Regions from separate parts of the Homo sapiens genome. Here region 1 is linked to region 2. Evidence: fine-mapped expression QTL. Tissue or cell type: amygdala. Region 2 holds a variant in brackets; the other region holds the start of a gene. All regions are shown on one strand. Distances are between the middles of the regions.

Region 1 (4,000 bases), 430 kb before region 2:
TTAGAATCATGTATTTCCCCTGCCTCCCTTTGCCAGTGGGCAGAAGGCAGTTTCTGAGCAGTGATTAAGCCTCTATCAGGACACTAATGCAAGTGGCCCATAAAAGGCATCTAACCCTGACACTGTTGGAGGATCCAGGACCCAGGGAGTTGGAAAGAGGGAAGGAAAATCTTTAAAAGAGGGAGCCAGGTGAAGCGACACACTGCAATGTGACTGACCTGCTGAGATTCCAAGACCTGAAACACAAACATACATGTGCACGCACACCTCCTCCCATCTAGAACCCAACTGTTTTTGACTTCTGTTCTCTTAGCGGGCTTCCCATTCCTCCTATGCCCCCAACATTATCTGAGAGGCAGCTGTCTGTTTTGTAGGAGAAAAGAGATAGTCTGTTTGAGTGATGCACACTGGATCACAGAGCAAGTTATGGACAAAGATGGAACTGTCTCTGAGTGTCATTACTTAACTTGCTAATCCACATAGGGCTGGGGGTATCCACTCATAAAAAGCAGGGCAGGACATTTTAAAGCCAGACAGGGGCTGTGTAGAGAAGGAAGAAAAATAGAATTGCAGGGACTGATAATGGAAGTATTTACTGTACACTTACTATACACCAAACATTTTATGTGGTTCATGCTCATTTAATCCTGACAGCCCTGAAAGTTAGGTTAACATAAACCCTATTTGACAGGTGCAGAAACTGAGACTGAGAATAGTCAAGCAACTTGGCTGAGGTCACAAAGCCAGGATATAGTGGCAGGTTTTGAAAGAGGCAGTTTGATTCCAGGCTCGGCTCTGATAATATTAAGCGGGCATTAAAAAGCAGGCTTCTGGGAGATGGAAAAGGAGTGGTGGAATCATCAAATGGCATGGATGTTGTACATAACTGAAGCCCTGGATTACAGAATTAAAATTCCATGTCTGTACTCCTCCCTCCCGCTCCAGCTCCACAGTTGGCGTGGGCCAGCCCAAGGCTACTGGTGGTGGGAGGAATAGCTTCATGTCCTCAAAGCACTCACCTAAATTCTGGTGTAGGGAGAGCTTAAAGTCTGTGGAAGAGACCCAGCATGCCTTTCCAAGTAGGTCCTGGGTTAGAAAGATCTGGGAGGCCTGTGTGTTAAAAGAGATGGCAGGAAATGATTCAGCTCTATATCTGTAAAATCTCTGACAATGACAGGATGTGAGGAATGACAGGAGGATCAGGAGGGCTGGGCGGGGGTGACTGAAATGTACTGACCCTGGCTGCAAACTAAAAATAAAATCCTAAGTCCCCTCCACCAACTGAATAGAAACGCTCTTGGCAAAGAGGACCCCAGAAAAACCTTAGAAACTGAGTTCCCAGCCATGACAGGACAAGAGGTCAGACACACCTCATTATACTCCCCTCCCTTTTATGGTTTAGACACAACCAACCAGCATTAATGTCAAAATAGAGGTCATAAGACTGACCAAACACACTCTTTGTGGCAACAAGATACCAAATTACAAACAGGACCTAAGGCCATGCCAAACAAGGGTTAAGTCATGCAGCCCTACACTTAAAAGAATAAACTATGTTCTAACTGCCACAAGTTTTCCTTTTCTCTAGCAGCTAAATAAGCACTGGCCTCTAAATAAACAATACTAAAACACTTGCAGCTCCACCAGATGCTGACTAACTGAACTCCACCAGCCATAACTACAGCTTTGATTGGACAAGAGTGATTTCGGTAATTTTCTCCTGGTAAGGAGCCCACCGACCATGACTGGTTCTAGCGGGTTTACAGAGATTGCATACTTGAGTGCCTTCATGTCCTGAATAGACCTTTTGATGTATAGGGCCTGATTGCAATATTTAAATATTAAGTCTCCACCCCAAGGTGAACATGTGTCATATGTAAGATGCATGTTTAATATGCATGCATCAGGACCACTTTCATTAATATTCATAGCTCCTCCTGTAACCTGTTGAATATGTGTTAAGCCAACCCATTCAGCATAAAAGCATAAAACTCCTACCCCAACCCCTCCTCCTTGGAGGTGCCTGTCTCTGGGCTTCTGCTGGAGGAGGCTGTGCTTCCTGGCCTGCAGGATGGCCACCTGGCAGGCTGTCACCCTTAAGAAATAGTGTCTCCATTTTTCTAAATTTGTATCTTATGATTTTTTTTTTAAAGTTAACGTATCTGGCAAAGATGGGATTCTGAAGCAGCCCCTGAATTCCTTTTCCTGTGTCACCCAGGACACCAGGTACAGCCAAGGTCCCTTTGAAAAAGTCCAGTTGTTCCTGACTATGCTGGGAAAGGATCTGGGTAAGTGCTATCAAAATCCAAGATCTCCCACTTTTAGGTTGCAGACTTGATTTCTTCTTTTAGGCCTCCTCCATCTGTGGAACTCCGGAGGAGACCCTCCTGCTGGCCTTGGGTTTGGGAGGGCATTCCTAGTTCTTCTCAGTCCTTTCTGTTCTCCTCCCTGGACCCCGGAGGGAACATCTCTCCTAGCCTTGGGTTTGGAGGAGGCCTTCCTGATTCCCTCCATCCAAGGGCCCTGGAGAAAATGCATTTGTGGGCTCCGGGCTTATGGAGAGGCATTCAGGTTGGATTCAACTGGTTCATAAGGTTTGTGGGGATGCTCACACTAAGGGCACTGGAAGAGATATCTTCATAAAGTCAGTGCAATAGGTAACTTACCCACTAGGGGCAGGAACTCCTGTAGAAGTTCAAAGGCATGCCAGGTTTTCCAGCACTTCAGCTAGCTGCATATTGTGGCCTGTTCTTGTGCACATTTTAAAACTGAACGGGCAAATTACAGCAAGGAAAATTCAGAGCTCAAATGCCCAACCTGCAACTATACAATTAAAATGTAGAGTTTTCTAAAGCTATCTCTTTTTTGTTTTCGGCCTGCTTTGAATTTGCTGTTATTAAGCTACTGCTGTTAAGATAAAACTCATTGTTTATGATACTACTAATTCAAGGCTACTTGGAGCTTTCTTTACAGTTCAGCCAATTGTAGCTAAAATGTAAACACTGAAAACTCATTTGAAACTTCAGGAAAAAAAAAAGGGGTAAAAGGTTTTTAAAAATAAAACTGCCATGAAAACTACTTTTCCCAAGACTTTGGTCCATAGCCTTCATTGGATTACCTACTGGGACAAATAAAGTTTAGCCATGTGAACAGGTCCCAATTTTGTCAGAAATAATTTGGATCCAGCTGTCTTTTGTTAAGTGGTGAGTCTGTATTACCATCTCATGGCTAAGGTTCCAGAGTAAAAGCTGTAAGATCTTTGTGTGTATGTGTTTAAATGTTTGTATATGAACATGTATTATGTTGTGTTGTATCTAGCATGGTACCAAACTGGTTTATAAGTAAATTATACTCATAAATTAAGTAAGTCCAAATACTTTTCAGATTCATGTGAACTTAGTAATCTGGTAAATAAAATGGTTTTAAAATTATTGGTAAAATAAAACTAGAAATGTCTTCAGAATTGTCAGCATACATTTTTTTTTTAGTCTGGGTTTACTGATTATTTTATATTTGCCTCCGCTAGGTGTTTTAAGGTATCAGGATTTGGCACAAAAGATTATAAGACTATAAACCCAGTCAAAAAGAGAATGATCTTTGTGTGAATTTTTTGACAAATAAGACTAATTTAATATTGTTGGTTCAATGAAAACAGCTAAGTTGTTAGCTGTTTTGTTAGCTTCTGAGTTGTTGGCAAAAATATCCACATGTTTAAGGTTCTGACTTAAATGAACATCTGATATTCACAGGCTACAAAAATGGTTAACAGGTCATACAGGTTACTAAACAGCTGATGACTCGTCACATAGAACTTACAGGTAAGTCACTGTTGTAACCTTGCTTTTTGGCTCTTCTGTTGCTCAAAAGGTTTTTAAGGGTTAATGAGTGCCTGTTCACCTCCATCCTCATCTGGCCTAGAATGTTTAATTGGCTCCAAGTCCCTTGGCCATAAGGATCCCACCAAAGAACAGAATGAACCTGCAGCAGGTAGCCACACCAC
Region 2 (8,362 bases):
TCTTTAGAGGTTCAACACTGGAATTGGCAAAAAAAAAAAAAAAAGCCTCCTTATAGCAAAAAAAGACTCTCATTTTAGTGTGGGGAGTGTGTTTGAGGGAACTTAATGCTTTTCTAGAAGGCTTCAGATAGCCGAGAAGAAAGCAGTGCTGTCCAAGATAAGAGCAGAGTGTCTCAACATGAATTACTATCAGCAAGGCCCTCTAAGCACAGGAGGATGGCCTGTCACTGAGCAGGCAAATTCCAACCTTGCTTTATCCCAATTATCTTTCCCATTCTCTTCCACCCCAGTTCTAAAGGAGGAGACGACAGGGGAACAGATGAGTGTGCCCAAAGTACCCGGGGCATGTTAGAAGGGGAAGTGCCATAGCCTCAAGACAGCCCCACTTCTACAGCCTGAGGCATCAGACATGCCGTCCATCTTCTCCGTGGCCAGCCTGTGGGTAGCCCTTGCCTTCGTTCTGCTCCCCACATCTAGCCAGACATTCAATTGTTCTCTAGCCCAAGCAAGCTTAAAGATGTTGATTCAGGATTAATAACTGGGATGGACAGGTCAAGATCTTGGCTTCACTCATTTACTCAACACGTATTTATTAAATGAATGGCTTTGCTATTGACAGAGCAGTTTTCATTGGGAAACCCCAATACAGCAATGGCTAATAAAGGCAGGTAGCACAACCATCTGAAAAAGAAAATGAAAAAGCCACCTAGAATGACATCTTAAATATAGCAAAATTAATTTAATTCTAAATGGGATCTAAAAGAATACTGATAGATACATAATGTATGCAAATCTATGCAAATCCTGGTACCAATTATGCAGAAAAGGATTGGGTGGCATTTCTAAAGACTAGCCATGCTCTAAGCTGTCACCCGCCAGCTTGCTTCTCTCTGGAGTCAGATTAAGACCAGATGGCAAGAATTAGAAACCAAGAAAAACGCCTCCCTTGAACCCTCACCTTCAAGTCTAATTTAAGCATCTGTGAGCTTTGAAGTGGTGGGACTACTTTGGTTAGCATTCAAGAGCCCTTTTAGGAGTTGCAGCAGGACATTGATTCAGGAAACAATAATACCTGACCATGCGGACTCTGCTAGACTCTTGCATGGCCTGCTGAGGTAATGTCTATAAAATGCTTTGACCTTCTTAGAATAAGACAGCTTTATGTATTGCTAGAAAAACAGCAAAACAGAATGCCTCACAAAATAAAAGATTCCATTTCCTCTAAGGGGATAAAGTACAAATGTGCACCTGCATACACACACACACACACACACACACACACACACACACACACACATACTTACCATCACCTTACAATGGAGCTAGTGTAATTTCTTTACAGAACCTCAGTCCTGCCCCATTCAGGCTTAGCAGCAGATCACTTGCACAATGTTGACTGCAGCTCCTTCCTTCATAAGCGTGTTCCCTCTAGACTACTGAGTCAGCATCATTATCCAAATAAATATCTGCTATATTTTGTTGTTAGTAATGATAATGACCAGCTGGGGTCACTAAGGATGGGCTTAATGCATATCATCCAAATGGAAAATTTGAGAAAATTGGAAGCTTTAGAAAGAGTCCAATTGTGTGTCCCTGTTTACTTTCAAAAATAAAACTCTGCCTTATATTAAAGTCATTCTGTTTTGTTATAGTGCTCAGGGCACCAGCCTTGGGATTTACAGTCCAGTGTACTCCAAAGCATTGTTGGACCCAAGAGTGGGGTTAGAAGCCTGAACCATATACTTCTGAGGGTCTCTCAAAGCCTGCAAAGAGTAGGAGGAATGCAAGGTCCTAGCTGGTAACCTTGGGACTGATAAAGGATGCCAGAATAAAGTACCTTCTCTTGGAGATCTGGAGAGTAGGGCTTCCCCAGCAGAGCAGTGCGGGGGGTCTGCAAGCTGGAAGGGAGGAGTTCGGATGCTCTGAGCTGTGTCTCACCATGGATCTAGCACAGCCCAAAAGCTGGCCCTCACTAAGTCAATTGTGGAAACTCCCCACAGGAGGATCCTGTGGTGTGAGGTCTGAGCACACGCTGAAATGTCCATGGGGATAATGAATCGCTTTATCTAATGGGAAGCAGAAGCTTCTCTGAAAACAATTCCTGCATTTTCTATTGTGACCAGGAAGCTCAAAGCACTCCATATGTCTCAGAAGCAAATGGCACATACTGGAGTTATATTAAACTCTAGAGCAACTTCTGAAGTAAGTCTTCTCAGGCTCAGAATCTACTGTTGGGGACTGACTATGGAGAACTGTTCTCTGAATGATGAGTTAATTTCTTTCCTGAACTTCATTTACACATACAATGAGCACATATTGCAAGAGGTAATGTGCTTAGCCCCGTGAGTTAAATAGATGATTCGGCAAACTCAGGCAGGTGAGCTCAGAAAACAACTCTTGGAGCAGACTCTGTGTGTGTGTGTGTGTGTGTGTGTGTGTGTGTGTGTGTGTCTGTGTTCTAGACAGAATAGGGATGGCACCCACTGTAGGAAGAAGCAGGTACCCATTGCTTTTGAGCTTTTCCTCACTTTTACATTTGGAGGAGTTCTTGACTTTTCTTCATCCTTCTGAAATCTCAGTGCTTCTTCCAGGGTTTGTTTTCTAAGGGTATAATTTCTTGGAAGAGACAAATGTCTTTATTTCCTGAACTGCTGGGGCTTGTGACTGAATGGGAATAAGAGTATAAATCAACTATGCCAGTTGTGGGGCTGAAGACCAGGAAGTGCTTTGTAGGCATGAAGGGCTTCACCAATTTTTAGGAATAATGCATTTTTATATGAGTTTTATACGGAAAATTTGTCAATTAGTTCTAATTATGCAGCATTCTGAAATTCTCTGAGACTTAGCCAGAACTGATGGAAACTCAGTAACGAAAGACTGAAACACTATCTTATTTCTATATTTCTATGCCTCCTTCACGTCCAGATCTGTTAATGACATTCTGAGTCTATACTACTTGTCTCTGGAGGTAGTGTATCAGTTAGAAGGGCTTTCGCCTGCAAGTAACAAATGCATCTAAAAATGGCTAGAGCAAATATTGAGTTAATTTTTCTCACGTCTTCAAAAGTCTGGAGGTAGCAGTTTTCTGATTGGTTCATTAGCTCCATATTGCCAGCACTCGTGTCTCTGGGATTCTCTCGAGTTTTTCCTGATGGTTACAAGATGGCTGCTGCAGCTCCAGGCATCAGGTCCTCTATTTAAAAAAAAAAAAAAAAGTTGGTGAGTATGTTGGTTTTAATATATGGCCTCAAATTCTTTCACATACCTCTTGTCTTTAAGTGGGGTCTATGTCCTTTTCCCTCGACTCTCAGTGGGTTTGTGCCCATTTGAACCCATAGAGTATGGTAGAAGTGACACTGTGTGATTTCTGAGGCTAGATCATAAAACGACATGCAGCCTCTGGCTGGTTCTCTTGGAACACTTGCTCTCTGGACACTCCCCTTGGGATTCTTCCTTTTGGGATCCTCACTCTCAAACTCAGATGAGATATCCACAGGAAGGATAGAAAGCCTGTTAGGAGCGTGCTACAAAATGGAAGACATTTGTGGAATTTAGGAACATGAGTCAGCAACTGTGGATAATAGCTTTATATTAAAGGAGCAGCAGTACTCTGTGCCCATAAAGTGCACACAGCAAGACATCCTTGAGCTTTGTGTTTATTCTCTGACCGTACATGTTTTTTTAATCAGTTTGCAAGGCTCAGCTCCACTCCAGAGGCAGGCATTCTGCTTTCCAGAGAACAGCTGGACTTTCTCAGAGAATATGCAGACAAGTCAGGCACCCTTTTTCTTTGCCCGTAGCAATATAAGAATGCACTGGCAGACTTATTTCTTCTCACTACTAAGGATCTATTTTATAACTCCCTGCCTTCTAGAATGTCTTTCCTTGTTTTTTTTTTTTGTTTTGTTTTTTTTTCCCTGTGTTGCCAATGCCTTTCTTTTCCAATCACCTTTGAAAGACATTTTTTTTCTCCCTTGAGCATATCTCCAGTCTTTTCTCTGGCAGCTACTATTCATTATTTAACTTATTTCTGTATTTTTTTCTTCTTTTTTATTTCAACTTTGTGAAAAATATAGGGGAAAATCTTGCTCTGGTGTCCTCAGCATGTCCTGTTTTGGCTTGCTCTCAGTTTCCTAGAGACTAGCATAGTGGCTTGCACATGGTAGACACTCAAAAAATGCATTCAGTGTGAATGAATGAATGAATAAATGATGGATGGATGGATGGATGATTAAATGTTTATATGGAAAGTATGGACTCAAACTAAAATGCAGCACAGCAATTAAATCAATGACTCCATACAACAGGTCAGGAGTTTAAGTGTGATGTTGCAGCTCTTCTGTTGTGAGATCTTGTGAATTTGCGCATTTCTTTTTTTTTTTTCTTTTGAGACAGAATCTTGCTCTGTCCCCAGGCTGGAGTACAGTGGCGTGATCTCGGCTCACTGCAACCTCTGCCTCCTCGGTTCAAGCGATTCCACTGCCTCAGCCTCCTGAGTAGCTGGGACTACAGGCGTACACCACCACGCCTGGCTAATTTTTTGTATTTTAGTAGAGACAGGGTTTCACCATGTTGGCCAGGATGGTCTTGATCTCCTGATCTCGTGATCC[G/A]CCCGCCTCGGCCTCCCAAAGTGCTGGGATTACAGGTGTGAGCTACCGCACCCAGCCGAATTTGCACATTTCTTCATTTACTTCACATTTATTGAGTGTCCATTTTGCTCTAGTTCCTGTGCAGTCTAATGGGGAGACAGGCTTACATAATGCAGCGTAATAAACACTGTGGCAGAGCAGCCAAATAGGTTATGGGAGCACAAAGTTGTATGCAGGCTTTGGGTAGATGGAGTTTTGCTCTCATCTTGCCTAGATCAGTTTAATATCAGGGTCTCCCAGAGGTAGCATGGCCAAGGGTTACATTTTTAATATGAATACTCATTTCTTTCTGTTCTTTTCTCCCAACACCCCTGACCCTGTCTTGCAAATGAAAGCTTTTCCTTTCCCATCCTGGGAGGGGAGGTAGAGCATTGTGCTTCTGAACATTGAGCCCTCCCTATGTCTTAGGTTGTGGAGACGCAGGGTTGCCCATGGTTTGAATCTAGACTAGTGGGATTCTAAACTCTTCCGGGTGAAACATCCTATCAAAGTTCAGTTAAAGAGCATATGGGAAGGGATCCTGGGAAAAGTAGGAAAGGCTCTGGATCAGAGGCACCTGTTGCCTAAAACCTGATTCTAGAGAGTTGTTTAAACAATAGGTCTGATGCCAGCTTGGTGCTCCAGTCCTGGAGGAAGATCTGCTGTGATGGGCACTGTTTGAGCACACAAGAGATATACTAAACCTGAGGCCTCCCCAGCAGACCTCCTGATCTTCGTGTATGTGAGAACTTTGCATGCCTGCACCACAGCTCTCTCTCATTGGCCACCCAGTTAATGGCTGAGAGGTTACGATACCAACACTGGCTCAAGCCCCATCATTTGGGCCCCTCAGAAGAAACTTCCCTGCAATGTACAGAATGTTCTGTAACCTACGATGACCCCTGGAGACTCCTGGGGAGGAGCTTCTATACAGATATTTTGGAGCCAAAGGGAATAATCCAAGTGACCTCTAACTAGGACAGTGGGAAGAGGGCACACCCATTACAATGAAAGCATATTCTGAATTCCCACAGCTTGCATTTGAATCTTGCCTTCACCACTTCCTAGCTGTGTAACCTTAATCCTGGGCAAGTTGTTTAACCTCTGTGAACTTCAATTCCCTCATCTGTAAAGTGAGGTCCTAGTATCTATTACACTTAGTGGTTGGGAGGATTCAATAAGCTTTTACATGGGAAACAGTTGTCACAGTGCCTGGCATATAGTATGTGTTGCTATTGTATTTTTGTTGTTTTTGTTTTTATTATGATGAGCAAGAAAGACTCGAGGGACATTTTAGAAATATCTAAAACTTTCCTGAATCTGAAAAAAAGATTTGGCCTCTACTCATCTGCCCATCCCACCGTTTATTTGGGGAACTTATTCTTCTCTAGGTTCCACTTTAGGATTGATTGGGGATCAAAAAATGGTGGAAAAGGGAGAATTTCTACAAAAATACAAATTTGAATTTATGTAAAAATGTATATAATAAATAAAATTCTGTTTATTTCATTCTTTTCTTCTGTGAGGAATAGGTATCTCTACCTATTGGGACTATGAATTCTGGAGTATAGTTCTAATGGAAACAAAAGGTCATTGTCTTCCCCTGTTTTTCTATGCCCTATTTGGGCCCAGCTTCTACAACTAACTGTATTATTGTCCCTCCTTGGCCATGCTGTTTATCTCTGTCTCACATCCAGCTCCCAATACTGGCCAGAAGAAATGGCGGACTAGTTTGAGGGCCAGGGATTCAGGCATCATCAGAATAAGATTAAGACCTTCCTCCTACTTAGAGACTTTCAAAGCCATAGTAACAGGAAGGAAATTTTTTTAAATGTTCATTTAGGTTCTTACTCAGAAGTGGTTATTTCTTAATTTTTTGACTCAATTTCTCATATCATTCTTTTCAACCTTCTTGTTGTTATGCAAGATTCAATAGACATTACTGATGGTTTACTGTGGGCCAAATGCTGTGCTTTCAAGTACAATTACCTCTCTTTTTCCTCTTCACTTCCCTAGGCTGTAATTCTCTCATTTTTATTACTTGGGAAAGTGCCCCAGATTGCCAGTTCTTCAATTAACAGAGCAAAAGAAGACGTCATATAGAATGTCTCTGACAGAATGAAGAAATTACTAAGAAGTGATTTTGTATGTTTTATTTTGCCCTAGAAAATTTTCTTGTTCAGATTCCAAAAGTCACTTCCTTTAATCTAACGTGCCTTGAGCTTCAATTCTGAAAGCAATAGATTGCTCTAAAATGATAGACAATGACTGAAAAATCATACAGAATTTCAGTATTCCCAAACTGATTGGCAATATGTGTTCAACAAAGTAACAACAAACATCTTATTTCTACAACAGTGACAGTGTACTTGGCATGCCAGGAACATTTCGACTTCATTTTCAGCTCTAATTGATCATGTACAAGGACTTGGATATCTGAAGAGCTGCAATAACTTCAACATCAAATCATCCTGGTAGATTACCAAAATGCATTGTTCTTCCAAAAATAGTTGGATAGCTTTCTTTATAAGTGAACTGGAAAACCTAGTACTAAGGCCAGAAAAGAAAAGACTTGAACAAAAGTAAACTTTATATTGAGCACAAAACCACTTTAGAACCACCAACTACTTCATTTGGATAAAATGAAAACTTTAAATGCAAAGAGAGACAAAAACTAGACATGTTTGGATAGCATTAAGCTGGATGGAAATAAATTTTGATTTGTGACTTAGGAGCCCTTTCAAGTCTGTTATGGTTTTAGTCTTTAAAAACAGCTGGGAAAACAGCATTTTCTAATTGAAGAGGGAAAATAATTGTATATCTTCAAGAAGGAATTCTGACCTAGAAATTTGCTTGTATATAAAGAAGCAAATAATTTCACTAAGAATGAAATAAAGGGCAAAGGACTTAGGATCTTCAAGAACCTGAATTTTAGTAGAGTAAGATCTCACAGTACTTGAAATATGGAAAGACTGAGGAAAAAGACTAAACAGCGAGGATCCACCAAGGGCAGGAATTAGGAGGTGCTGATTAGTAACGCGGATTTCCCTGAAGATGACGTCAGCTTACATACTGCTGAGAAAATTGATTCCAAAACTTTATCTTTCTTACCTGTTTTCCCAAGTCAACTTTTTGCTGTCATTGCTATTAAAGGGGGACTTTCTCCTGCCCCCTGCCGTGATGGCATCTTTCTCTTTCTACCTGGAGTTTTCCCCTGCCCAAGCCCTGAATTGCCTTCCTCCATTTCTTCCAGAGCCATTGAGTGTCATCCTATTTCACCCTCCAAATGGACATGTCCACATCTTTTACTGTGCACAAAAGACAGAAGACCCTCCTGCTATCGTAAAACACTCCCTCAACGCTTTCCTTTTCTGTAATCTAATGTGGTAGGGCTTCTGGGCCACTTCAGTGAGTCGCTGGCATTGTTTCCTACATAGCCCAGGGGGCTTTCTTTGTTTTACTTCTCTCCTTTCCTGCTCCAACCCTCTCTTTGCAGTATATGCTCTCCAAAGCTAGCTTTTGACACCTTGAAGACACCAAGAGGGTGCTTGCTGCTCTGTTAAGTCCCTGATTTAGCTGAAGGTTGCTGGGATTGGCCTGTGCTGCTCTTGGTAAGACAACTTCTGTGCCATAGAGGTGGCTCTCCATCCCCAGTGGACCCTGGTGGACCTCCTTACAGAGAGTGAGTCTCAGGTTCTAATGGGCACCTCTGCCCAAGGCATGTGAAGTAGAGA

The links. PIP is the estimated chance that this variant, and not a neighbour inherited with it, causes the effect.
Region 1: it holds the start of LINC01963, and the variant in region 2 is fine-mapped to the expression of LINC01963 in amygdala (GTEx, PIP above 0.99).

What each region holds. Positions count from the first base shown.
Region 1 is chr2:216,214,825-216,218,824 of GRCh38, reverse strand. LINC01963 (long intergenic non-protein coding RNA 1963) reads right to left here and starts at 1,936. Exons shown (of 1, transcript NR_037701.1): 1 at 1-1,936.
Region 2 is chr2:215,779,826-215,788,187 of GRCh38, reverse strand. All of the region lies in intron 1 of LINC00607 (long intergenic non-protein coding RNA 607), which reads left to right. Among named protein-coding and RNA genes, the nearest start is that of LINC00607, 60 kb to the left of the region's middle. The variant G/A (reference allele first, on the strand shown) is at 4,611.